Linked DNA regions of Homo sapiens: all the other regions are linked to region 3. The links come from fine-mapping of genetic effects on gene expression. A gene starts in region 3. Each other region holds a variant in brackets. All regions are shown on one strand. Distances are between the middles of the regions.

Evidence for each region. PIP is the estimated chance that this variant, and not a neighbour inherited with it, causes the effect.
Region 1: its variant is fine-mapped to the expression of ING5 in whole blood (TOPMed, PIP above 0.99).
Region 2: its variant is fine-mapped to the expression of ING5 in thyroid (GTEx, PIP above 0.99). The same link has a PIP of 0.9 or more in pituitary.

What each region holds. Positions count from the first base shown.
Region 1 is chr2:241,754,503-241,762,675 of GRCh38, forward strand. D2HGDH (D-2-hydroxyglutarate dehydrogenase) reads left to right here. Exons shown (of 10, transcript NM_152783.5): 9 at 1,347-1,512. Among named protein-coding and RNA genes, the nearest start is that of GAL3ST2, 18 kb to the right of the region's middle. RefSeq lists a silencer at 6,218-6,418. The variant G/A (reference allele first, on the strand shown) is at 4,723.
Region 2 is chr2:241,723,895-241,732,067 of GRCh38, forward strand. ING5 (inhibitor of growth family member 5) reads left to right here. Exons shown (of 8, transcript NM_032329.6): 8 at 1,095-5,584. The coding sequence ends at 1,137. Among named protein-coding and RNA genes, the nearest start is that of D2HGDH, 6.6 kb to the right of the region's middle. The variant T/G (reference allele first, on the strand shown) is at 4,584.
Region 3 is chr2:241,697,721-241,705,868 of GRCh38, forward strand. ING5 (inhibitor of growth family member 5) reads left to right here and starts at 4,319. Exons shown (of 8, transcript NM_032329.6): 1 at 4,319-4,382; 2 at 6,933-7,004. The coding sequence starts at 4,346. RefSeq lists silencers at 3,613-4,432, 4,175-4,338, 4,523-5,082 and enhancers at 3,737-4,569, 4,808-5,437.

The DNA of each region.
Region 1 (8,173 bases), 57 kb after region 3:
GCGGGAATTTTGGGCGCCGGCCGGATTCCCAGTGGTGGCGAGGAGGTGGTATTTTTTTAAGTGTCAGTGTGGCATTGTGGTTGCCTCAATAAAACAGAGTCTTTTTTTGTCTTTTTTTTTTGAGACAGGGTCTCGCTCTCACCCAGGCTGGAGTGCAGTGACACAGTTGCAGCTCACTGCAGCCTCGACCTCCTGGGCTCAAGCAATCCTCCCGCCTCAGCCTCCCGAGTAGCTGAGTCTACAGGTGCCCACCACCAAACCCAGCTGATTTTTATTGTTTTTAAGAGACGGGGTCTCCCTGTGTGGCTCAGGCTGGTCTGAAACTCCTGGGCTCAAGTGATCCTCCTGCCTCAGCCTCCCAAAGCTCTGGGAATACAGGCGTGAGCCACTGCGCCCGGCCAAGTGTTTCTCTTAGAATTTCCTGAAATGATAGGGTCTCTGGAGGGGCAGGTGCTGGGCTTGAGCCCTGGGTAGGACCCTGCAGGGGAGAGGTGGTCCTGCAGCCCACAGAGGATGGCTCTGTCCTGTTCCTCATGGTGCAGATCTCCACAATGGAAGTTCGAAGCAAGCAAAAGCCACGCAAACCACAGGCCGATCTGTCTGAGCCCTAGGATTTGGCCCGGTTCTGCTTCAGCCACCAGCACCGTCTGCTCCTCCTCAGAATCCTTCCTCCCCCGTGGCCCGCCCGCCGTGTCCCTCCTCCTCCACGGCCCGCCCACCGTGTCCTTCCCTCCCCCGTGGCCCACCCACCATGTCCTTCCCTCCCCTGTGGCCCACCCGCCATGTCCCTGCCTCCCACCCGACATGCCCCTTGAGCTGCCTGGGCCCTGCTGTTGTCCCCACTGCCTGTGTGACTCTGCGCCCCCTTCCCTACCCTGCCCCACCCTGGTTCAGGGAGCGTCCAGGCCCATTCTCATCCTCAGGGCCTTCCCTGGCCCTTGCCACTCTGTGCCGTGTCATGACCTGAAGCTGCAGGTGGGCGCCTCCCCCTTCCGTCATGGCTGTCCCCCTTCTGTGAGGTGTCCCAGCCGCCTGATTGCCGGAGTCCCAGGGTGCTCGGTGCTGTCGTGGAGCCTGGGACATTCACTGTCTGGGATTGATTCCAGGGTTGGAGCCACACCTGGTCTGGGGCATTCGCTGTCCTGGGTCAGAGCCCCTCCTGGTCTGGGACATTCGCTGTCTGGGGTTGGAGCCACACCTGGTCTGGGGCATTTGCTGTCCGGGGTCGGAGCCTCACCTGGTGAAGATACAGAACATGCTGCTGCCCTAACCCCGTGTGGTGTGCCCCCTGTCCCCGGGTGTCGTTCCCATAGCCAGCCCTTGTCTCATCTCGTCTCATCCTCTAGATGCTGTGGGCCCTGAGGGAAAGGATCACAGAGGCGCTGAGCCGGGATGGCTACGTGTACAAGTACGACCTCTCCCTCCCTGTGGAGCGGCTCTACGACATCGTGACTGACCTGCGCGCCCGCCTCGGCCCGCACGCCAAGCACGTGGTGGGCTATGGCCACCTTGGTGAGCGGCGCCCCGGGGCCGCGGCCCTGTGTGTGCTGGGTGGTGGGCCCCACGGTCACCGTCACCCTGCCAGGCTTCGAGGCAGGGCAGTTTGACCATGGTCTCTGGCTTAGCATATCTCCCGTAGACACTGGCAGGACCACGGTGTCTGACAGGGAAGGGAAAATCCTAATCGTTGTCATGACTCGTTTTGAGTATTTTGGAAAAGACTGCCATCGTGCACTTGTAATGGCAGAGCGCATGGCTCAGCTTGTCAGAACGTTCTGGGATCTTCAGTGGCATGCAGGGTTGGAGGGCATCAGCCTTAACCCCGGAGTCCGGGATGCGGGTCTCAGGGGCTCCTCTCACAGGGCCCGGCCCCGAGGCCTTTGCAGTGCTTAGCCCCCAGCTGCTCTACCCCTTCAGATGGGAGGATTTCAAAACCACGTTCAGATCATCTTTTTTCTGCAGAAAAATCATGCTTTAACGTGTAAGCTATTAATTCATAGGAAGAAAATGTTTCAATCCTATCAGTTCTTTTTTTTGAGACGCAGTTTCACTCTTGTCACCCAGGCTGGAGTGCAGTGGCGCAATCTCGGCTCACTGCAACCTCCATCTTCTGGGTTCAAGCAATTCTCCTGCCCCAGCCTCCCGAGTCTCTGGGATTACAGGCGTCCACCACCAGGCCTGGCTAATTTTTGTATTTTTAGTAGAGACAGGGTTTTGCCATGTTGGCCAGGCTGGTCTTGAACTCCTGACCTCTGGTGATCTGCCCACTTCGGCCTCTCAAAGTGCTGGGATTACAGGAGTGAGCCACCGTGCCCAGCTGTTTTCCTGTCAGTTCTTTGGAGCCTTGGAGCGAGGTGTCTAAAAGGCCAGCTTATAGGGCAGGGGTGGGGGCAGTGCTGGGGGTGTGGAGCATGGCTTTGGGGCCTGACAGATATTCACTCTGGCTTCTTCCCTGGCCTGGTGGCACTGGAGTCACTGACCTGAAGCCTCCATCCATCTGCCAGTAAATGGGATTCAGGTGCCACCTCTGTGGTTACAGGAGGGTCTAGGGTTGTGTACGTGACGACAATAACACGTATTACTTACGAAGGTCCCGTGCTGTCCCAGGCATTATTCTAAGCACTTGATGTGGAGAAACTTCTCTGCACAACAGCTTTTAGGACTGGTGGTGTTGCTTCCCTTTTACACACATGTAAACAGGTTCAGAGAATTTAAGTAACTTGCCCAAAGTTGCCCAGCCTGTGGAGGGGTACATCTGGAGGATTTGACATAGGATGGATGGTAATCTTCTGTGATAGGAAGGCAGGACTCCTGAATGGGAAGGGGGTAAGGGCATGATGAGTGTGTCATCATCCAGAGAAGAGGGGTACGGGAGCCCCAGTATTTCAGAATATGGGAAGGGGGTAAGGGCATGATGAGTGTGTCATCATCCAGAGAAGAGGGGTACGGGAGCCCCAATATTTCAGAATATGGGAAGGGGTTAAGGGCATGATGAGTGTGTCATCATCCAGAGAAGAGGGGTACGGGATCCCCAATATTTCAGAATATGACCTCAAGCCAGGAGGAGGCTTCCTCCTCTCCAGGTAACTTCAGTCTCTCTTGGCCACAGATAAAGCAGACCATCTTGGTGAGAAATGGAATGAGCCCTCTGTTACTTTGTAAAAGCAAGAATGGGCCAGGCGCAGTGGTTCATGCCTGTAATCCCAGCACTTTGGGAGGCTGAGGCGGGTGGATCACCTGAGGTCAGGAGTTCGACACCAGCCCGGCCAACATGATGAAACCTCGCCTCTACTAAAAATACAAAAAATTAACTGGGCATGGTGGCAGGCACCTGTAATCCCAGCTACTCGGGAGGCTGAAGCAGGAGAATCACTTGAACCCAGGAGGCGGAGGTTGCAGTGAGCAGAGGTTGCACCATTGCACTCCAGCCTGGGTGACAAGAGTGAAACTCCATCTCAAAAAAAAAAAAAAAAGCAAGAATGAATGTTGAATTTTTAAAATGTGTTTCCTGCATCTGTCATGGTGACCGGGTGCTTGTCTGCCTGTAATCAGTGTGGTAAGTTACACTGATTGATCCCTCTGGAGTCAGATGAGTCTGTGTTTCTGGGGTAGGCCCAAGGTGGCCATGATCCTTTCTGTATCTTGCTGGATGAGTTTGTTTATGTTTGGTGTGGGATTTTGACAGGGGTCTTGGTGGATGATTCTGTTCCACGCTGTTCCTTTCTTCTGTCCATGCTGGATTTTGGTATCAAAATCATAACATGAATATTATGCAGAACTTGCCAGTGGAGCTGTTTGGGCCTGGAGGTTTTTTTGAGGGAGTATTTTAAAATTATAGCTCAGCTTCTTCAATAGCTTTAGGACTTTCAAGCTTTCCTTTCTTCTAGATTGGTATTGCTAATTTTTTCCCATATTGGCATAAAGTTGTTCGAATATTCTTTTGTTGTCTTTTTATGTAGCATTTGTGGGATGCCCCCACACCCTTTTTTTTGGTGGGGACAGGGTCTCGCTGTCACCCAGGCTGGAGTGCAGTGGCTCACCACAGCCTCGACCTTCTGGGATCAAGCAGGCCCGCCACCTCACACACACCAGCAGGCCTGGCTAACTAAAAAAAAATTTTTTTGTAGGCCCGGTGCAGTGGTTCACGCCTATAATCTCAGTACTTCAGGAAGCCAAGGCTGGAAGGATCACTGGAGTCCAGTAGTTCTAGACCAGCCTGGGCAACACAGTGACATCTGATCTATACCGCCCCCCGCCCCACAATATATGTGTGTGTGTGTGTGTGTGTGTGTGTGTGTGTGTGTGTGTGTAGAGCCAGACTCATGTAGAGCCAGTTGTGTGGCCGGACCGGTCTTGAACTCCGGGGCCTCAAGCAAATGCTCCCTCCTTGGCCTCTCAAAGCCAGAGATTACAGGCGTGAGGTACTGTGCCTGGCATTATTTGCTGCTTGCATTATCATTCCTTCTTTGACCGATGAGTTATGCAGAAGTGTGTTTCTTAATTTCCAAACGTGGTGGTTTTCTAGTTATTTTAAAAATTATTGATTTCTTTTTTATTGCATTATACCCAGGAAACTTCGTCCTTATCAGATCAGATTTTTGAAACTTGATCAGTGGCAGCTTATGATCAGCCTTCGTAACTGTGGAGTGCTTGAAAAGAATGTGCTCTCTGCAGTTGCTGGAATCAGTGTTTGTACAGATCCATCAGATAGAAGTATACGTC[G/A]CGTGTTCATTCTACATCCTGCTGACCTGCCACTCCCTGAGGGAGGTGTTAGAAATCTGCTGACAACAGACTAATCTGTTCCTCCTGTAGCTTTGCCAGTTCTGGAGACGTGTTCTTAGGGGCATAGGACATGAGGTTCGTCTCTTTGTTTTGGGAAACTGAATCTCCTAACGCGATGGACTCGCTCTTTATCTCCAGCATTGCCCGCTGCCTTGGTGTCTGCTTTGTTTATTACACAGTGATGCTAACTTTCTTTTATTTAGTGTTTGCCTGATGTGTTGTTTTTCCTCCGGTTAGCTTCAGCTTTTCCATCCTTAGTGATTTAGATGTGTTTCTTGTGGACGCCCCCGGACAGGTTTCTTGCGTACTTGTTTGCCGTCTTGAATGAGAGCGTTTGGCTGCTGAGCACGTGCTGTGGCCCACTGTTTGGATTTGTCTACTTCACCCTGCTCTTTGTCTCTCACTTCTTGTCTATTTTTTCCTCTGTTTTTTGCTCTTCTGGTTTATGTTCTTTGTCATTTAGCTTTTTGCCGTTTACTAACTGTTGGTGGTCGCCCTGGCACCACAGTGGACATTTCTAGCCCTCTGGGTTTGAGGTTAATCAGAGTCACTATCTTCCTCCCAAATAATGTGTGATGGTGAATTCTCTGCGTCCACTTGTCTGGGCCCTGGTACCCTCGTTTGGTCAAACTCCAGTTTGGATGTTTCTGTGAAGATATTTTTTATGTGTGATTAACATTTAAATCAGTAGACGTTGAGTACAGGAGATCTCCCACCACAGTGTGGGTGGGCCTTACCCAATCAGTCGAAGGACTTCGCCACAGCGTGGGTGGGCCTTACCCAGTCGAAGGCCTTCGCCACAGCATGGGTGGGCCTTACCCAATCAGTCGAAGGACTTCGCCACAGCGTGGGTGGGCCTTACCCAATCAGTCGAAGGCCTTTGCTACAGTGTGGGTGGGCCTTACCCAATCAGTCGAAGGACTTCGCCACAGCGTGGGTGGGCCTTACCCAATCAGTCGAAGGCCTTTGCTACAGTGTGGGTGGGCCTTACCCAATCAGTCGAAGGACTTCGCCACAGCGTGGGTGGGCCTTACCCAATCAGTCGAAGGCCTTTGCTACAGTGTGGGTGGGCCTTACCCAATCAGTCGAAGGCCTTTGCCACAGCGTGGGTGGGCCTTACCCAATCAGTCGAAGGCTTTTTGCCACAGCGTGGGTGGGCCTTACGCAATCAGTTGAAGGCTTTTTGCCACAGCGTGGGTGGGCCTTACCCAGTCAAAGGCCTTTGCCACAGCGTGGGTGGGCCTTACCCAATCAGTCAAAGGCCTTTGACACAGCGTGGGTGGGCCTTGCCCAATCAGTCGAAGTCCTTCGCCACAGTGTGGGTGGGCCTTACCCAATCAGTCGAAGTCCTTTGCCACAGTGTGGGTGGGCCTTACCCAATCAGTCGAAGGACTTCGACACAGCGTGGGTGGGCCTTACCCAATCAGTCGAAGGCCACAAGAGCAGAAATCTAAGATCTCTTAAGGAAGAGAGGATTCTGACCCAGATGGAGACTCAAGCTGCAGCACCAGCTCCTGCTGGGATCTCCAGCCTGCTGACCTGGACTTCAGATTTTAGACTTAGCTCCCTCAGTCACATGAGTCAGTTCATTAAAATCAGTGTCTGTCATCTCCCTGTGTCTCAGTGTGTCTCTCCATCTTTCTCTCTCTGTTTGTTTCTCTAAATATGTATAATCTCACTCTTGCTCGCACTGTCTGTACACACACATCCTGCTGGTTCTGCCTCTCTGGGAGCCCTGATGGCTGCACAGTGCGAGGACTTCAGGGCCCCGTCACTTTGGCTGTCGTTTACCCCCCAGTTTATGGTGGCCCCTGTATTTGCGGGCTCCACATCTGCAGATTCAACCATAAAAATAACAATACAACAATAAAAAATAAACAAAAGACGATGTAGTATAACAGTGACAGACACAGCATTTCCGTCGTACCAGGAATCGTAAGTAATCTAGAGGTGATTTAAAGTATACAGGAGGGGCCGGGCACAGTGGCTCACGTCTGTAATCCCAGCAATACGGGAGGCCAAAGCGGGTGGATCACCGGAGGTCAGGAGTTCAATACCAGCCTGGCCAACATGGTGACACCCCATCTCTACTAAAAATACAAAAATTAGCCAGGCATGGTGGCGTGTGCCTGTAATCCCAGCTGCTTGGGAGGCTGAGGCAGGAGAATTGCTTGAATCTGGGAGGCGGAGGTTGCAGTGAGGCGAGGTTGTGCCACTTCACTCCAGCCTGGGCAAAAGAGCGAAACTCCGTCTCAAGAAAGAAAAGTATACAGGAGGATGTGTGTAGTTTATATGCAAATCCTATGCCATTTCCTGTCAGAGACTCGAGCATCTCAGGATTTTGATATCCGAGGGGTCCTGTATCCAGTCCCCCAGGGACACTGAGGGGCACCTGCATGCTGTTCGGTGGTGTATTCTGGTTCTGCCTTGTTCAGTCACACATAACCCTGTCACCATGTCACCATCCTGATTCTGCGTAGCCAGTTTGCACACAGCTTCTGCTTGAATCTCAGCCTCCAGAATTTTCCCTGGCATGGAAAAATAGGTGACGGAACAGCTCAGATTTTCTTTGTCTGGAAATGTACTGATTTAGTTGATAAAAATGTCTTTTCCTCAGTGGATTTCCGTGGTTCTGGGTTGACAGTTGCTTCCCAGCAGCAGGAGGGAGTCTCTGTTCTCTCTTCTGATGTCTGCTGGTGCGGAGACAGCCTCAGTTCAGGGCAGTTCCCTTCGGGGGAATGGAGGGAACAGAGGGAAATAAATAATTTCTTTCTTTTTCTTTTCCTTTTTTTTTTTTTTTTTTTTGAGATGGAGTCCCGCTCTGTCACCCAGGCTGGAGTGCAGTGGTGCGATCTTGGCTCACTGCAACGTCCGCCTCCCGGGTTCAGGCGATTCTCCTGCCTCAGCCTCCCGAGCAGCTGGGATTACAGGCGTGTGCCACCACACCCGGCTAATTTTTGCATTTTTAGTAGAGATGGGGTTTCACCATATTGGCCAGGCTGGTCTCGAACTCCTGACCTCGTGATCCACCCGCCTCAGTCTCCCAAAGTGCTGAGATTGCAGGTGTGAGCCACCGCGCCCAGCCTGCTTTTTCCTTTTTGCTGCTTTCAGCTCCTTCCATTGTCTTTGGGGTTCTGCGGTTTCACTCTGGTTTGGCCGGGAGTCGGCCAGATGAGTGTTTGTTTACCTGCCTGTTGGCCGGGTGAGTGTTTACCTGCCTGGCACTTCTTGGGCTTTGGGGTCTTGCTGGCTTTAGAAATTCCTCAGCCACCAGAGCCTCTTCAAACACCGTTTCTCCCCTTCCTCTGTTCTCCTCTTGGAACTCAGTCCAAGCCCCCTTGTTTCTTATCGGCTGCTGCCAGGGTCCCGCCTCTCAGGTTTGGATGCTATT
Region 2 (8,173 bases), 26 kb after region 3:
AACTACCTGGGAGGCGGAGGCGGGAGGATGGCTTGAGCCTGGAAGTCCGAGGCTTCAGTGAGCTGAGATCGCGCCACTGCACTCCAGCCTGGGCGAGAGAGCAAGACCCTGTCTCAAATAAATAAATAAAAAGATAAAAACCTGGCTTTGTTTGCCTGTGCTGAAAATCTAAAAATGGATATCTATGTTCTGAAAATGAAATCGGAATGTGCTCTTCTGTGTGGCACTCAGAGGTCATCGTGGCAGCGTGTTTGAAACTCCGGCAGACTCGCCCGAGTTGGTAAGAGCCAGTTATCCTTGGTGTTCGGTGTGAGGACACAGGGAAAGGATGCCGTGTCTCGGAGGCTGGCCGAGCTCACGGTGTCATGTGGCGTCAACACAGGCTGTCCTGTCACAGGGACACATGGCACTGTGGTGCCCCACGCCGTGCGGCTGGGGGATGGTGCACCGAGGGTTTTGAGAAGGGGTACGGAGGCTGTTAGGGCGGAGGGCCCTGGGCAGGCTTGGGCCTGGGCCAGGCGGTGGTTGACGGTTGCCGTCATGCGAGTCGGCTGCCTCCTGCGTGGGGAACCTATGGAATGTCCTCTGTGGTCAGCAGCTGCCTCTGTTCAGGAGCCCCTTGTGCGTGCAGCTCCAGAACTTGCTCAGAGTCACCAGGGAGCACTTGTGAGACGGCAGCTTCCAGGGCCAGTGCAGGGTGCCTGGCTGGGTTTCCGTGGGCCTGAGGGGCTGCCATGCTCTCAACGCGTGCTTGGTACCTGCAGCCCCCACAGACTGCAGACAGAGGGCACCAGCGACCCTGCCATCGGCCGGGGAAGAAGGACCCACCTGTTAAGGAGGAACGCCTGGGTGTCAAATCGGTTTTGCTCATTGATGGTGTATCTGTCAGCTTCAGAACCGGCGTCCTGCATAGAGCCGCACGTGCATCGGCGCATTTTCCCTGCGGGAGGGCCGCGGCCCCACTGCGTGTGCCTCTCCTGGTGCCCTCCTGCCGGCGTCCAGCAGCCCTGGGAGACATGGGGAGGCGGGCCCTGGGCACCCTGCGCGCTGGCGGAAATGGCGCCCAGGGCCTCACTGCGCCTTTCTTGTCACAGGTTCTGTCCACGGTGTGTCCAGGAAAAGAGGAAGAAGAAGTAGGAGGAGCTGTGTGCCCGGATCCGAGGAGCAAGTTAATCTGTCCCTTCATTCGTGTCGCAATATTTCCCTTCCTTTTAAAACTACCTTGTTCGGTTGATACTTAGTAACTCCGTGGCCAGTTGAAGCGCTGGATGTTTCCTAGAACAAGAACCACCAAAGCCTGTTCGCACAGAAGGGCGACCTTGCAGGGACTCGCCGCCGCGACCTCAGTGTGGCTTTTACAGGACTCCCCCCGAGCATCAGCAGGGACCCCGGCGGACGTGGGCGGGCGCGCGTGAGCTCGGGCTGCCCGGCCGGGCGTGCGGGCGGGGACATGGTAACCTGGTCCACGGAGGGCGGCCGCCACCCTCGCGTAGCTTTCCTGTGGTTTTCCAGGACTGTCCGGTACAGCCCGGGCTCCGCGTGCCCCGCCCGCTGGAGCACCTGCCACCGAGGCGCGCGTGGGGCCACTGCCGTGGCGGCGGCTGCCCTCCTCACACTCGGCTCCGCGCCGCCTCCGGCCACCGTGCGCTCCCGCGTGGGGCGCCTCGGATGGGCCCGGGAGGGCTGGGGGCTCTTCCCTGGAGGAAGCGGCCTCCGCTTCGCTGGCGCCGCCTTTTTAGCTTGGACTTCAGTCCTCCCTCGGGGACTCACCTCCGGAGTAAACGGCTCTTCATTAGCTTGGAGTGGCCGCAGGTCCCGTGACCAGCACCCGCGAGACCCTGTGCGACAGCTGGGCTGATGCTCCGTTTCTCTGGGAATTGGTGATTTTTTACTGTGAAGATGAAATTACCCTAATAGCATGAAGATCGTGGGTCTGTGTGTCCGTGAAGTGAGTCCCGTCTGCCAGGAGCTGACGAACCACGAATGCTTCTGCCTGTGCTGTGCATTCCCAGGCCCGCAGCTCCCGGTCGAGGGGACTCCGATGTGAATTTGTTGTGAATTTGTTGTGCCACAATAGCAGTTCTGGAATGAAGCTAGGAAACTCGAGTGTGCTTTTTGTTTAATGAGCGTTCACCAAGCTGAGCCGGAGCCATCCTTTCGGTGGTAGTTGGGGAAGGCTATGCAGATTTGCTCTGTTGTGACGCGTTGGTGACGGTGCCCAGCCTGCGGTTCCCCACAGCATCGCAGGCGCTCGGAAATCCTCTCCCGTGCCTTTAGAGGAAGGAGAGGATTGCTGAGGAATGCAGGGACGCCTGTTTCTGTCCTCACACCACAGAAAGAAACCTGAGGGAAAACTGAGACGTGAGGTTCCTGATTTAAGAAGCCTGGGTTTCTTCATGGTGGGGGGCCATTTGGAATGACAGCCTCACTTCCTTCTGATGGCTACATCTGTATCTTTTCCTCCTGTGTTTAATGTTTCACTAGGGAGAGGAAATAAAGCAGAAGGAACGTGTGAAGCTCTGTGTCTCAGACGGGGCCCTCCCGTCGAGAAGCTGGTAGTCAGTGAGTGAGAACAAGAGAACAAGAACACCCTGAACAGTCCTGGTTGGGATGGTGTCCACATTCATGTTCTGCGGTTCTTGAACACACGGATGCCTCTGGGCCACCTGTCCTTTTCCGAGGGTGTGGGTGGGAGTGGATCCTCCGGGCGCAGGTGCCAGGCAGGTGCAGGCGGGCGGTCGGCCACTGCTGCTGCTCGTCCCTGCCAGTGTCTGGGCCTGAAGGGGCTCCCTCCAAGCGGTGCCTTCCTGCGGCTTAGAAGGGAAAGCGCCAGAGAGGGCAGGCTACAGTGCTTCACACCCTTCGCCACGGCTGTGAAACTGGAGATGGGTGGGTTTTGTATGTTAATTTTTTTTTTTGAGACGGAGTCTTGCTCTGTCACCCAGGCTGGAGAGCAGTGGCGTGATCTCGGCTCACTGCAAGCTCCGCCTCCCGGGTTCACGCCATTCTCCTGCCTCAGCCCCCCCGAGTAGCTGGGACTACAGGCGCCCGCCACCACGCCTGGCTAATTTTTTATATTTTTAGTAGAGACAGGGTTTCACCATGTTAACCAGGATGGTCTCGATCTCCTGACCTCACGATTTGCCCGCCTCGGCTTCCCAGAGTGCTGGGATTACAGGCGTGAGCCACCGCGCCTGGCCACCCAGCTAAGTTTGTATTTTTGTTGGAGACGGGGTTTCACCATATTGGCCAGACTGGTCTCAAACTCCTGGGGTCAAATGATCCGCCTGCGTCGGCTTCCCAGAGTGCTGGGATTACAGGTGTCAGCCACTGCGCTCAGCTGGGAGATGAATTTTCATTTAATGACTTAACTTTTTGTTAGCACAGGTTTTGTGTGTGTGTGTGTGTGTGTGTTTTGTTTTTTGTTTTGTGTTTTTGAAACGGAGTTTTGCTCTGTCACCCAGGCTGGAATGCAATGGCACCATCTTGGCTCACTGCAACCTCTGCTTCCTGGGTTCAAGTGATTCTCTTGCCTTAGCCTCCCGAGCAGCTGGGATTATAGGCGTCCACCACCACGCCCAGCTAATTTTTGTATTTTTAGTAGAAATGGGGTTTCACCATGTGTGGCCAGGCTGGTCTCGAACTCCTGACCTGAAGTGATCCACCCGCCTCGACCTCCCAAAGTGCTGGGATGACAGGCATGAGCCACCGCACCCGGCCAACACAGATGTTTATTGATCGTGGAGGATACATTGTGGAAAATGTTTTTCTCTCTTTTACCATTTTTGGGAAGAGGGATAGGTAAGTGCAGGGAGTTTGTGCTGAAACAGCGCCTGGCAATTTTTCAGAAATGAATTTGATATTGCGCTCCACCTTTGAGCTGTTCACACCTGTGGCTACCCCTGGAAAGCGCTGGGGTTGTTGATGCTTTTGGCTGCCCGGCTTCCTGAGGTCTCGCTGCTTTTTGGGGAAAGATGACTGGCTTCCCTGTGGGACGCTTTTGTCTGACACGTGATGATGTGGTCCTGCCTGCCACTGTGCACCATCCCAGGTATTGAATTTTGACCTTTTCTTTTCAAGTTTCTGTGCTTAGTGTTTTTAATGTTTACTTTTGCCACTTACAATAATATCACCAAAATAATATGCATAGAGTTTTGGAAGAAACATAGAAAACATGAGCAGAATGAGACAATTCCTTGGGCTGTAGTTTGGACCCAACTGAATCCTGAGTGCTCTGTGGCTGACGCTGTCTACCCGTGGGAGAGACACACTCAGGAGTGGCCGTTTGGCCAGAAAAGAAGGTCATGGCCCCTGGCCTGGCCCCCGCCCTGCAGGGACACAGAAGCCACACCATTTGCACCATCCACGCCTTGCTCCAGAAGGCCTGGCCGCCTTCTCCCTGGGGGTGATTCAAGGATTTGGTCTCGGACCAGACCCCCCTCCACAGCTGCCCGGCCCCAGACCCATCTCTTGGATTGAGGGTGTGTGGGCTGGAACCAGTGGGTCACTGTGGCAGCTTCATCTGAGCCGAAGGTGTGGGTCCTCTGTGGCTGTGCGATTGACCTCGATGGGAAGGAGCGTTC[T/G]ACCCATTTTCCTTGTTTTCAGTGCTGCGGTATCAGTCAGTGATCTGAGGAAATCCTGTAGGGGAAGGCAGGCTGCAGTGAAAACAGGAGCTGGTGAAACCGAGCCCTCTGCATCTGCGAATGTGCCCTAGGTGCTGCTGCTGGGGACATGGATGCCAAGCGGAGGCCTGCGTGGCCTCCTGAGCAGCAGCTGACCGCCCGTCTCATGCTGGACGGGACCCCTGGGCGGGTGGACATGAGACCACTGTTGGCCAGGGACGCCGTGCGGAGGCCTACGTGGCTGCCTGAGCAGCAGCTGACCGCCCGTCTCACTGTTGGCCAGGGCTTTGTGGCGTGGGTGTTTTCCAGTCTGCCTGGAGCAGCGAGAAGCAGCTGTGCAGACTGGTGGCGGTGGGAGGGTTTGCTGGGACTGATGGGGACACCGGCCAGCTTGTCTGGTGTCCAGCAGCCCTGCCGGACTTGGCCTCCTGTCCTGTCGTTGGGAGCCCTGGCTGGGGCTGCTTTGAGCAATGACGCTGGCCCAGAGCAGCTTCCCACATGACCCCAGAGCCGAGGGTCTGCCCTGTCCTAGGTTAGGTCTTCATGGTTTAGAGTAAAACCGTGAGGGATGTTAATTATGGGCATTGAAGACTTAAGGTTTTCTTAAATTTTTAGTGAGCAGTGATTGGCCTTCAATACTTGTGCTGAGAGGAATTTTAAGCCAGGGGAAGTGTAAGAAAATGTTCCCATTCAGGAGAGATTGTGTTGGAGTTTCTTTCTTCCTCTGTATGTATTTTGTGGTGTCCACCTTTAACCACGTTTCATCCAAAACGATGATGCAGCTTTAACATGAATGTTACATTTTTATTTTCAAGGAATTATTATCTATGTTCCCTTTGTAAAGGAAAGATAATGTTGTAAATCTTTTTATTAGATAATGTAAAGATGTATATCAGTATTTTTGGATCATGTTATAGATTATGGATATATTGTTTAATAAATAAAGTATTTTTTGGAACAAACAATTGAAAGTGCATCTGTATTAGCCCGTTTTCACGCTGCTGATAAAGACATACCCGAGATTGGGTAATTTGTAAAGAAAAAGAGGTTTTTTTTAAAAAAAATTTTCTTTTCTCTTTTTTTGAGACGGAGTCTTGCTCTGTCACCCAGGCTGGAGTGCAATGGCACTGCATGATTTCGGCTCACTGTAACATCTGCCTCCCGGGTTCAGGTGATTCTCCTGCCTCAGCCTCCTGAGTAGCTGGGACTACAGGCACGTGCCACCACGCCCTGCTAATTTTTGTATTTTTAGTAGAGATGGGGTTTTGCCATGTTGGCCAAGCTGGTCTTGAACTCCTGACCTCAGGTGATCTGCCTGCCTCAGCCTCCCAAAGTGTTGGGATTACAGGCGTGAGCCACCGCACCTGACAGAAAAAGAGGTCTGGTGGACCCTCAGTTCCACATGGCTGGGGAGGCCTCACAATCATGGCGGGAGACGAAAGGCTTATCTTACATGGCAGCAGACAATAGAAAATGAGAGCCAAGTGAAAGGGGTTTCCCCTTAAAAAAACCATCAGATCTCGTGAGACTTATTCACTACCACGAGAAAAGTATGGGGGAACCACCCCCAAGACTCAGCATCATTTTGGGAAACAGGTGTAAAATGTCAGTGTTGTGCCCAGAGACAGGTGTGTGAAATTGAATTCTGAAGGGGTATGCAGTGATTGGAGAGTGGTTTGCGGAGCTTGCTGGCTGGGGGTCTGGGGAGGACCCTGTGCCTTACCTTGGGTGGTTGCTCAGGAAGCTCAGTGGCCAGTGCTGGGGCTCAAGTTGACTTCCAAGGAAGACGTGTGAGAATGCTGCAGTTGCTTTCTTTTTTTTTTGTTTGAGACGGAGTCTCACTCTGTTGCCCAGGCTGGAGTGCAGTGGTGCAATCTCTGCTCACTGCAAGCTCCGCCTCCCAGGTTCACGCCATTCTCCTGCCTGTGTCCCGAGTAGCTGGGACTACAGGCGCCCACCACCATGCCCGGCTAATTGTTTGTATTTTTAGTAGTGACAGGGTTTCACCGTGTTAGCCAGGATGGTCTCGATCTCCTGACCTCGTGATCCGCCTGCCTCGGCCTCCCAAAGTGCTGGGATTACAGGCGTGAGCCACCACGCCCGGCCGCTGCAGTTGCTTTCTAAAGGAGTACTGTGCTTGCTCTGGAAGGGCAAGACTTACCGTGTTGCACTTGCCTTTTGGAAGCTGCTGGAGTCAGCTTAGGCTCTGTATTAGTCCATTCTTGTATTGCTATAAAGAACGACCTGAGACTGTGTAATTTATAAAGAAATGAGGTTTAATTGACTCACAGTTCTGCAGGCTGTACAGGAAGCGTGGTGCGGAGGCCTCAGGAAACTTACATCATGGCAGAAGGCGGAGGGGAAGCAAGCACGTTTTACCACGGCAGACCAGGAGAGAAAGGGAGCAAAGGGGAAAGGTGCCACACTTTTAAACAAGCAGGTCTCCTGAGAGTTCACTTACCTCCACAAGAACAGCAAGGGGAAATCTGCGCCCATGAGCCAGTCACCTCCTACCAGGCCCCTCCCCCAACATTGGGGATTATGGGCGGGGACACAAATCCAAACCATATCAGGCTGTTATCACAATACCACAGACTGGGAGGCTTAAGAAAAATGTCTTATATTTCTGGAGATTGGAAGTCCAAGATTAAGGCGCTGGGGTTGTCTGGTGCCTGTCCAGGGCTCTTCCCTTGGGTTGTGAACACTGCCTTCTCATGTGTGCCTACGAAACTGACTGGGAGAGGGAGCTCTCTGGTGTCTCTTATTTTACGGATGCCTGTCCTGTCGGATCAGGACCCCACCCTTGTGACTGACTTTAACCTTAATTACTTCTTCAGAAGTTCCATCTCCAAATACGGCCATATTGGGGGTTACAGCTTCTGCATACGAATTCTGGGGGACACAAACATAACAGGAGCTGATGGGTCTCAAGATGTTGCCTTGAGGAGTGCATTAACAGAACCCGGGAAGAGCTTGGTCATCACGAGGTACAGTCGGCCTCTCACCCACCGTCCAGGTGAAAACCAATCCGTAGACTGGAGTCCTCGCTGGAAGAGGAGGCTGAGATGCTGGGGGAAGGCCCCACAACGCCGAAACCAGCACCTGCCATCTCGCTGGAAGAGGAGGCTGAGATGCTGGGGGAAGGCCTCACAATGCGGAAACCAGCACCTGCCATCTCGCTGGAAGAGGAGGCTGAGATGCTGGGTGAGGGCCCCACAACGCTGAAACCAGCACATGCCGTATTTTCCTCCAAGCATTCTCTGAGGGTACATGTGGGCTTTGCTAGGGTGACTATGCCCTGGGAAAAAGAAAAATCAGTTGTTATTATTTTCTGAGACAGTTTTTTTTTTTTTTTTTTGAGACAGAATCTCACTCTGTCGCCAGGCTGGAGTGCAGTGGCGTGATCTCAGCTTACTGCAACCTCTGCCTCCCAGGTTCAAGCCATTCTCTTGCCTCAGTCTCCCAAGTAGCTGGGATTATAGGCACCGACCACCATGCCCAGCTAATTTTTGTATTGTTGGTAGAGACAGGGTTTCACCATGTTGGCCAGG
Region 3 (8,148 bases):
CCACAAAACTATGCTGTATGACATGTAATGGGGGGTAGCTGACATTATACATTTGTCAAAACCTATAAGAATGCACAAGGCACTGGGCGTGGTGGCTCACGCCCGTAATCCCAACACTTTGGAAGGCTGATGCCAGTGGATCACCTAAGTTTAGGAGTTTGAAACCAGCCTGGCCAACAGGGTGAAACCCCATCTCTGCTTAAAATACAAAACTTAGCCAGGCGTGGTGGTGCCTGCCTGTAATCCCAGCTACTTGGGAGGCTGAGGCAGGAGAATGGCTGGAACCCAGAAGGCGGAGGTTGTAGTAAGCCAAGATTGCACCATTGCACTCCATCCTGGGCGAAGAAGCCAGGCTCCATCTCAAAAAAAAAAAAAAAAAAGCACAAGGCAGAATGAACCCTTATGGAAATAATGATGGACTTTGGTTAATAATAATGTATCGGGCCCGCCGTGGTGGCTCACGCCTGTAATCCCAGCACTTTGGGAGGCCAAGGCAGGAGGATCATGAGGTCAGGTGATCAAGACCATCCTGGCTAACACGGTGAAACCCCCGTCTCTACTGAAAATACAAAAAATTAGCCGGGCATGGTGGCGGGCACCTGTAGTTCCAGCTACTCAGGAGGCTGAGGCGGGAGAATGGCGTGGATCCGGGAGGTGGAGCTTGCAGTGAGCCGAGCCCAGCTAATTTGAGGTCTCAAAAAAAAAAAAAGTATCAATATTGTTTCATCGATTGTAACAAATGTATCACATTAATGCAAAATGTTTATAATAGAGGAGTGTGTGTGTGTGTGTGTGTGTGTGTGTGTGTGTGTGTGTGTGGAGGAGTATATGAGAAGTCTACTTTCTCTTCAACTTTTCAATAAACCTAAAACTGATGGAAAAATAGTCTATAATTAAATGAGGCCAGTAAGGATGCACTCAAACTGCTAACATTAGGACTGAAAGCTGAACAAGGCAATCACAGTCCTGCCCCCTGGGGAGGTGGGAAGCTAAAAGTTCCTGTATTGTTTAATTTTTTTGTTTTTGAGACAGAGTCTTGCTCTTGTTGCCCAGGCTGGAATGCAATGGCATGATTTTGGCTCACCGCAGCCTCTGCCTCCTGGGTTCAAGTGATTCTCCTGCCTCACCTTCCCAAGTAGCTGGGATTACAGGCAGCTACCACCACAACCAGCTACTTTTGTATTTTTAATAGAGATGGGGTTTCTCTGTATTGGTCAGGCTGGTCTCGAACTCCCGACCTCAGGTGATCCACCCACCTTGGCCTCCCAAAGTGCTGGGATTACAGGCGTGAGCCACCACCCCAGCTGAATTTTTTTTTGGGGGGGGAGGGGTTTGCTCTTGTAGCCCAGGCTGGAGTGCAATGGCATGACCTCAGCTGACTGCATCCTCTGCCTCCTAGGTTCAAATGATTCTCCTGCCTCAGGCTCCCGAGCAGCTGAGATTGCAGGCCCATGCCCACCACGCCTGGCTAATTTTGTATTTTTAGTAGAGACTGGGTTTCTCCATGTTGGTCAGGCTGGTCTCAAACTCCTGACCTCAGGTGATCCACCCACCTCATCCTTCCAAAGTGCTGGGATTACAGGCGTGAGCCACCATGCCTGGCCTGAATTTTTATAATGAACATAATAGTGGCAAAAACATTGTTTCTGGTTTTCAATATTTGACTGGGGTTTAGGGAAGAGTCCACCAAGGGGGACATAGCTTGTTTTTTTAGGTGGGGGTCTCCGTCACCCAGGCAAGAGTACAGTGGTTTGATCATGGCTCACTGCAGCCTAGACCTCCTGGGCTCAAGCCATCCTCCCGCCTCAGCCTCTCATGGTGATCATACGGATTTGAGTCACAGCAGCTGGCTTAATATCTTTAAAAATGCATTTTAAATAATGAAAGTACTGCTCCTTTGATCAGCTTATGCTAATTTGTGTGACCAGCAACGTTGCATCTCGGAAGTCAAGGATGTGGCTGGGGGTGGGGCGGGGGGTTCTGGGGCCTACACGTTACATCTAGTGGTCATCAGTTCTTGGGGCTCGGGGAGCCTTTGGGACGTCCTCTTGAGATCACAGGGAGTGGAGACAGGACTGGGAAGTGACACACCTCACCCATGAAAGACCTGCCAGAGATGAGTTTGATCCCCAGCTTGGGGGCGTCCAGTGGTGAAGTGGGAAGAGGAGTGACATGGGTACTGGTGAGCACTGCATGATGATGCTACACAGTTTGGAGGCAGAGAAGAATCACCCCAAAGACTAATATTTAAACACTTTAAATTATTTTATTTTATATTTTAAGATGGAGTCTCGCTCTGTCACCCAGGCTGGAGTGCAGTGGCACGATCTCGGCTCACTGCAACCTCCACGTACCAGGTTCAAGTGATTCTCCTTCCTCAGCCTCCTGGGTAGCTGGGATTACAGGCACCAGCCATTATGCCCGGCTAAGTTTTTTTTTTTTTTTTTTTTTTTTGGGACGGAGTGTTGCTCTGTCGCCCAGGCTGGAGTGCAATGGCACGATCTCGGCTCACCGCAAGCTCAGCCTCCCGGGTTCACGCCATTCTCCTGCCTCGGCCGCCCGAGTAGCTGGGATTACAGGCGCCCGCCACCATGCCCAGCTAATTTTTTTGTAGTTTTAGTAGAGATGGGGTTTCACCGTGTTAGGCAGGATGGTCTCAATCTCCTGACCTCGTGATCCTCCCGCCTTGGCCTCCCAAAGTGCTGGAATTACAGGAGTGAGCCACCGCGCCTGCCCTATTTTATTTTATTTTTGAGATGGAATCTTGCTCTGCTGGCCAGGCTGGAGTGCAGTGGTGCAATCTCGGCTCACTGCAACCTCCGCCTCCCAAGCTCAAGCGATTCTCCTGTTTCAGCCTCCCGAGTATCTGGGATTACAGGTACTTGCCACCATGCCCGGCTAGTTTTTGTATTATTATTATTTTGAGACGGAGTCTTGCTCTTGTCACCCAAGCTGCAGTGCAGTTACATGATCTCTTCTCACTGCAACCTCCCTCTCCCAAGTTCAAGTAATTTTCCTGCCTCAGTCTCCGAGTAGCTGGGAGTACAGGCGCCCGCCACCACGCCCGGGTAATTTTTGTATTTTTAGTAGAGACATGATTTCGCCACGTTGGCCAGGCTGGTCTCAAATTCCTGCCCTCAAGTGATCCGCCCGCCTCGGCCTCCCAAAGTGTTGGGATTACAGGCGTGAGCCACCGTGCCGAGTCTGAAACATATTTTAATTATGTTTCTCCAGTATTTTTTTTTTCTTAAAATTTTCTTTTTTTTTTTTGAAGACAGAGTCTTGCTCTGTCGCCCAGGCTGGAGTGCAGACGCGATCTCAGCTCACTACAACCTCCGCCTCCCGGGCTCAGCCTCCGGAGTAGCTGGGACTACAGGCGTGCGCCACCACGCTTGGCTAATTTTTTTTTTTTTTTGTATTTTTAGTAGAGTCGGGGTTTCAACACGTTGGCCAGGCTGGTCTCAAATTCCTGCCCTCAAGTGATCCGCCCGCCTCGGCCTCCCAAAGTGATGGGATTACAGGCGTGCGCCAGCGCGCCGGCCTTCTCCAGTATTTTTGCATGCATCTTACGGCACACCTTTGCACGCCATCTTATTAACTATATCATACTGCCGCACGTGCCTTTTCGGCCAAGGCATCCAGATGGTGCGGGTCCTGCCTGCCTCGAGAGGTGGCAGCAAAGGAGCCAGTGCCCTCACTGGTGCTGGGCGGGGCGGCCGCTTTCCTCGGAGGGAAGGGGCGGCGTTGGCGGGGGAAGGGCGCCAGGGCCCAGGCCCTGAGGGAGGGGCAGCTCGCCCGGGCCACGCGGTGCCGGCCCTCGGCTCAGGCCGGGCTGAGGCCCCGGGGGCTCGGGGTCCGGGGGAAAGGCGCTGAGCCAGACAGGTCCCAAGGAGCCTTCGGGAAGGGAGGGCCTCGTGGCGGCCTGTCCGGGACCCGGCCGGGAGCAGGGGTCGCGTGGGCGCCGTCAGGACGGGCGTGAGGTCCCCGGGACCACGTGTTTGCGTTTGGTGGCCCAGGGGTCGCTGACAGGTGCGGAGGGGAGACGCCCACCTGGGTGCCCTGGGCCGCACGCCGGGCGGTGGGGCCGGGAACCCCTGCTCCTCCTCGGCCTCCGATCCGCTGCGGCCCTGGGTCCTGCTCGCTGCCCGACGCCGCTGCCACAACCTCCGCCCGGGCCCCGCAGCCCGCCGCCCGCCGGAAGCTGAAAGGCGTGTCCGACCCCGCCCCCGGGCGCGACCAATCAGCGCGCGCGACTCATGAATAGTGAGCGCGCTGGCACCGCCCCGCCCCCGCCTCCCGCGGCACCGCCCGCCCGCGCAGACCCCGAGCGCGGCCGCGGACGAAGATGGCGACCGCCATGTACTTGGAGCACTATCTGGACAGTAAGCGCGCCCCACGGGCCCCGCGCCCGCCGCCCACGCGGAGTCCTCCGTGCCGCAGCCCCCCGCGCGCCGGGCACCGCATGCAGACCCCGTGGGCTCGGGAGGGCGGCGGGCGCGGCCGGGCGCGACGGGGGGCGCGCGGACGGGGCGGGGCAGGGCCGCAAGGGAGGGGAGGGCGCGGGGGGCGGGCGCGGGGGGTCCCGCCGGCTGGGTCGCGCCAATTCCAGGTGCGTCACGGCGGGGCGGGGCCTGGCGATGCTGGGCGGGGCTTGCGGCCTCGACCCCGCCCACATATTAGGTCCCGCCCCTACCCAGGCCCCGCCTCATCTCCGCCCCCAGCTCCGGCCCCGGCCCCGCCAGGTCCCGCCCGTCCCTGTCCCGTCTGCAGGAGGAGCTGGCGCCCGCTGCGGGGCTCCGGGCCTTGGGGGCTCCGGGGTCTGGGCCTCCGCCTGGCTGTGCGCCCGTGTGCGCCGGCCTCTTGTGTGACCGCGGCTGGGGAGGGCGTGCGGGCCGCGGGGCGTCTCTCCCCGGCACTGGGGACTGCGGCGCGGAGGCGGGGAGGGCGGTGCCGAGTCGGCCCTGGTGGGCGGGCTGTGCTGTTTCCAGGTGGCAGCAGGTCGGCGCCCCCAGCGGCTGAGCGGACGGTGCTTTCCCTCACTTTACACACCAGGGAAGGTCCAGCGCTGCCGAGCAGCCTGCTCAGGGTCTCCCGCTCGTAGAGGGGCAGACCCCACGCGGGACCCCTGACGTCGGCCCGGGATGGGCACAGCTTTGGGGTCGCGGTGTTTGGGGTTGTGCCGGGTGGCTCTGGAGGGCCCTTGTGGGGGCGCTGCACTGGGGATCCTCATGGTCTTCGGCCTGGCACCCGCCCAGGGGCTGAGACAGTGGCGAGTGAGCCGTGGCCTGGAGCTGGAGACCGCTGCCCTAGAGGGACGCCCGATTCTGCCCATGTGCTCCGCTGTCTCTTGGGGGTCTGAGTAGTGGGGGGTTCCCTGGGTAGAAGAGTCAAGCTGGGGAGCACGCTGGAGGGGAGGCCTTCTCTATCCTGGTGCCCAGCCAGTGGGCTGGCCTCCCAAGGAGGGTTGACTTTGTGTGTGTCTGGGAGGCTGTGCCAGCCGGGAGGCTGTGCCTCTGTCCTCTAGGGGAGCTGGGAAAACACTGGGGCTGGAAGCATCAGATGCATAAGATAGAGTTAGGTTTAAAATGATTGCCTGGTAACTGTGAACAGCAGATGGGAGGGTGGCCAAGACTGGAGGAGGCAGCCCCCCTTAGGAGCCTGTGTCAGCTGTGCAGGGGGCGGAGGTTGGCCTGGTCTAGGGGGTAACAAAGCAGACGCGAAAGCAGCACGGGGGTCCTCCTGGCAGACTGTGGGGAATGGTTGCGCTAGCCACAGGGACTATTTAAGTAAAATTAAAAATTGAATGGCGTTAGTCCCATTTCCAGTGCTCAGTAGCTCCCTATGGCCACCACTGTCTTGGGCAGCTCAGAGAGAACATTTCTTTTCTTTTTCTTTTTTTGATTTTTTTTGAAATGGAGTCTCACCCTGTTGCCCAGGTTGGAGGGTATGATCTCAGCACACTGCAACCTCCACCTCCCAGGTTCAAGCAATTCTCATGCCCTAGCCTCTCGAGTAGCTGGGACTGTAGCTGTGCACCACCACGCCTGGATAATTTTTGTATTTTTAGTAGAGACAGGGTTTCACCATGTTGGCCAGGCTGGTCTTGAACTCCTGACCTCAACTGATTTGCCTGTCTTGATCTCCCAAAGTGCTGGGATTACAGGTATGAGCCACCACGCCCATCCGAGAGAGGAAACATTTCTATCCTTGCATAAAGTCGCGTGGGCAGCGTGGCTACACTGCTCAATGCACTGGATTTCTGGGTAAAGTAGGGGAAGATCAAGGAGGACCCAGGGGATTTTGGCTTGAGCCTTGGAAGATGCTGCTCACTGAGGGGGGGCAGCCTAGAGGGTGGGGTCAGTTGGCCTCCCCTGCCTGTGCTGTTGGTTTCCAAGTTTCCCTCTCCCTTCTTTGACTTCTGACAGCTTCCGAAGTGTGCACACAGCCTCTTGTCAGCACTGTTTGGTACCTGCATCTAAAAATGAGATCACAGTCCTTCCGCTCCGCAAACCCTGACAGAGACAGAATACAGAGTGGGCTTGTAGACTTGAAGTATAAAACTTTTGGCCAGTCCTGGTGGCTCACACCTGTAATCCCAGCACTTTGAGAGGCCGAGGTGGGCGGATCACCTGAGGTCAGGAGTTCGAGACAAGCCTGGCCAACCTTGTGAAACCCCGTCTCAACTAAAAATACAAAAACTAGCCGGGCATGGTGGCATGTGCCTGTAATCCCAGCTACTCAGGAGGCGGAGGCGTGAGAATCACTTGAACCTGGGAGGTGTAGGTTGCAGTGAGCCAAGATCGCACCACTGCACTCCAGCCTGGGCAACAAGAGTGAAACTCCATCTCAAAAAAAAAAGACAGAAAACCTTTGGAGGTGAATTTTTGTCTTGCTGCTGAGAGGTACATGGCTTCTGTGTTTTTGCGTTTCAGGTATCGAGAACCTTCCCTGCGAACTTCAGAGGAACTTCCAGCTGATGCGAGAGCTGGACCAGAGGACGGAAGGTGGGTTCAGACCTCTCCATACAACCAGAACTGAGTTCTGACAGGTGGGAGCCAGCAGCTCCTGAAGGCTGGGGGCAGAGGGTTTTGAGGGGACCCAGGTTAGTGGGGCATTGGCCTAGCCCTGGGCCGTGGGTATCACTCAGTGTCTTGCAGTAGGTGTTGATACTTTTGAAGCCACATTGTTTCTTGGGTTCTTACACATCTTTATATCATGTTTTTATAACCATCACCCTTTCCAATCAAAATATTTATTGCCAATTTTTTCTTTTAAATATTTTCAATTTTCAAAGTGTGTAGTGCGTGCATTGTTTTAAAAGTTTGGTAGTACTTTTTGGCCGTTTGATATTTAACTCCGTTTCTTTTTTTTTGAGACGGAGTCTTGCTTTGTCGCCCAGTCCGGAGTGCAGTGACGTGATCTCAGCTCACTGCAAGCTCTGCCTCCTGGGTTCACACCATTCTCTTGCCTCAGCCTCCTGAGTAGCTGGGACTACAGGTGCCCGCCACCACGCCTGGCTAATTTTTTTTTTGTATTTTTAGTAGAGACGGGGTTTCACCGTGTTAGCCAGGATGGTCTTGATCTCCTCACCTCATGATCTGCCCGCCTCAGCCTCCCAAAGTGCTGGGATTACAAGCGTGAGCCACCTCGCCTGGCCCTAACTCTGTTTTTTTCTTTTTTTTTTTTTTTTTTTTTGAGACAGAGTCTCACTCTGTTGCCCAGGCTAGAGTGCAGTGGCACGATCTTGGCTCACTGCAACCTCCACCTCCCGGGTTCAAGTGATTCTCCTGCCTCAGCCTCCCGAGTAGCTGGGACTACAGTCACATGCCACCACACCCAGCTAATTTTTTGTATTTTTAGTAGAGACAGGGTTTCACCATGTTCACCATGTTAGCCAGGATGGTCTTGATCTACTGACCTCATGATCCGCCTGCCTAGGCCTCCCAAAGTGCTGGGATTACAGGCATGAGCCACCGCGCCCGGCCCTTAAACTCCCTGTTTCTAAACAACATGTTTTTGTTGCTGTTTCTTATTTTATCTCTCGTCAGTTTTAGACGTTGTTCAGACGTATATGGCACAGGCAGCTGTACTTCTCCAGTGGCCCCCACACCCTCACATGCCCTCACCTGGCTCCCCCATCTCCTGGCT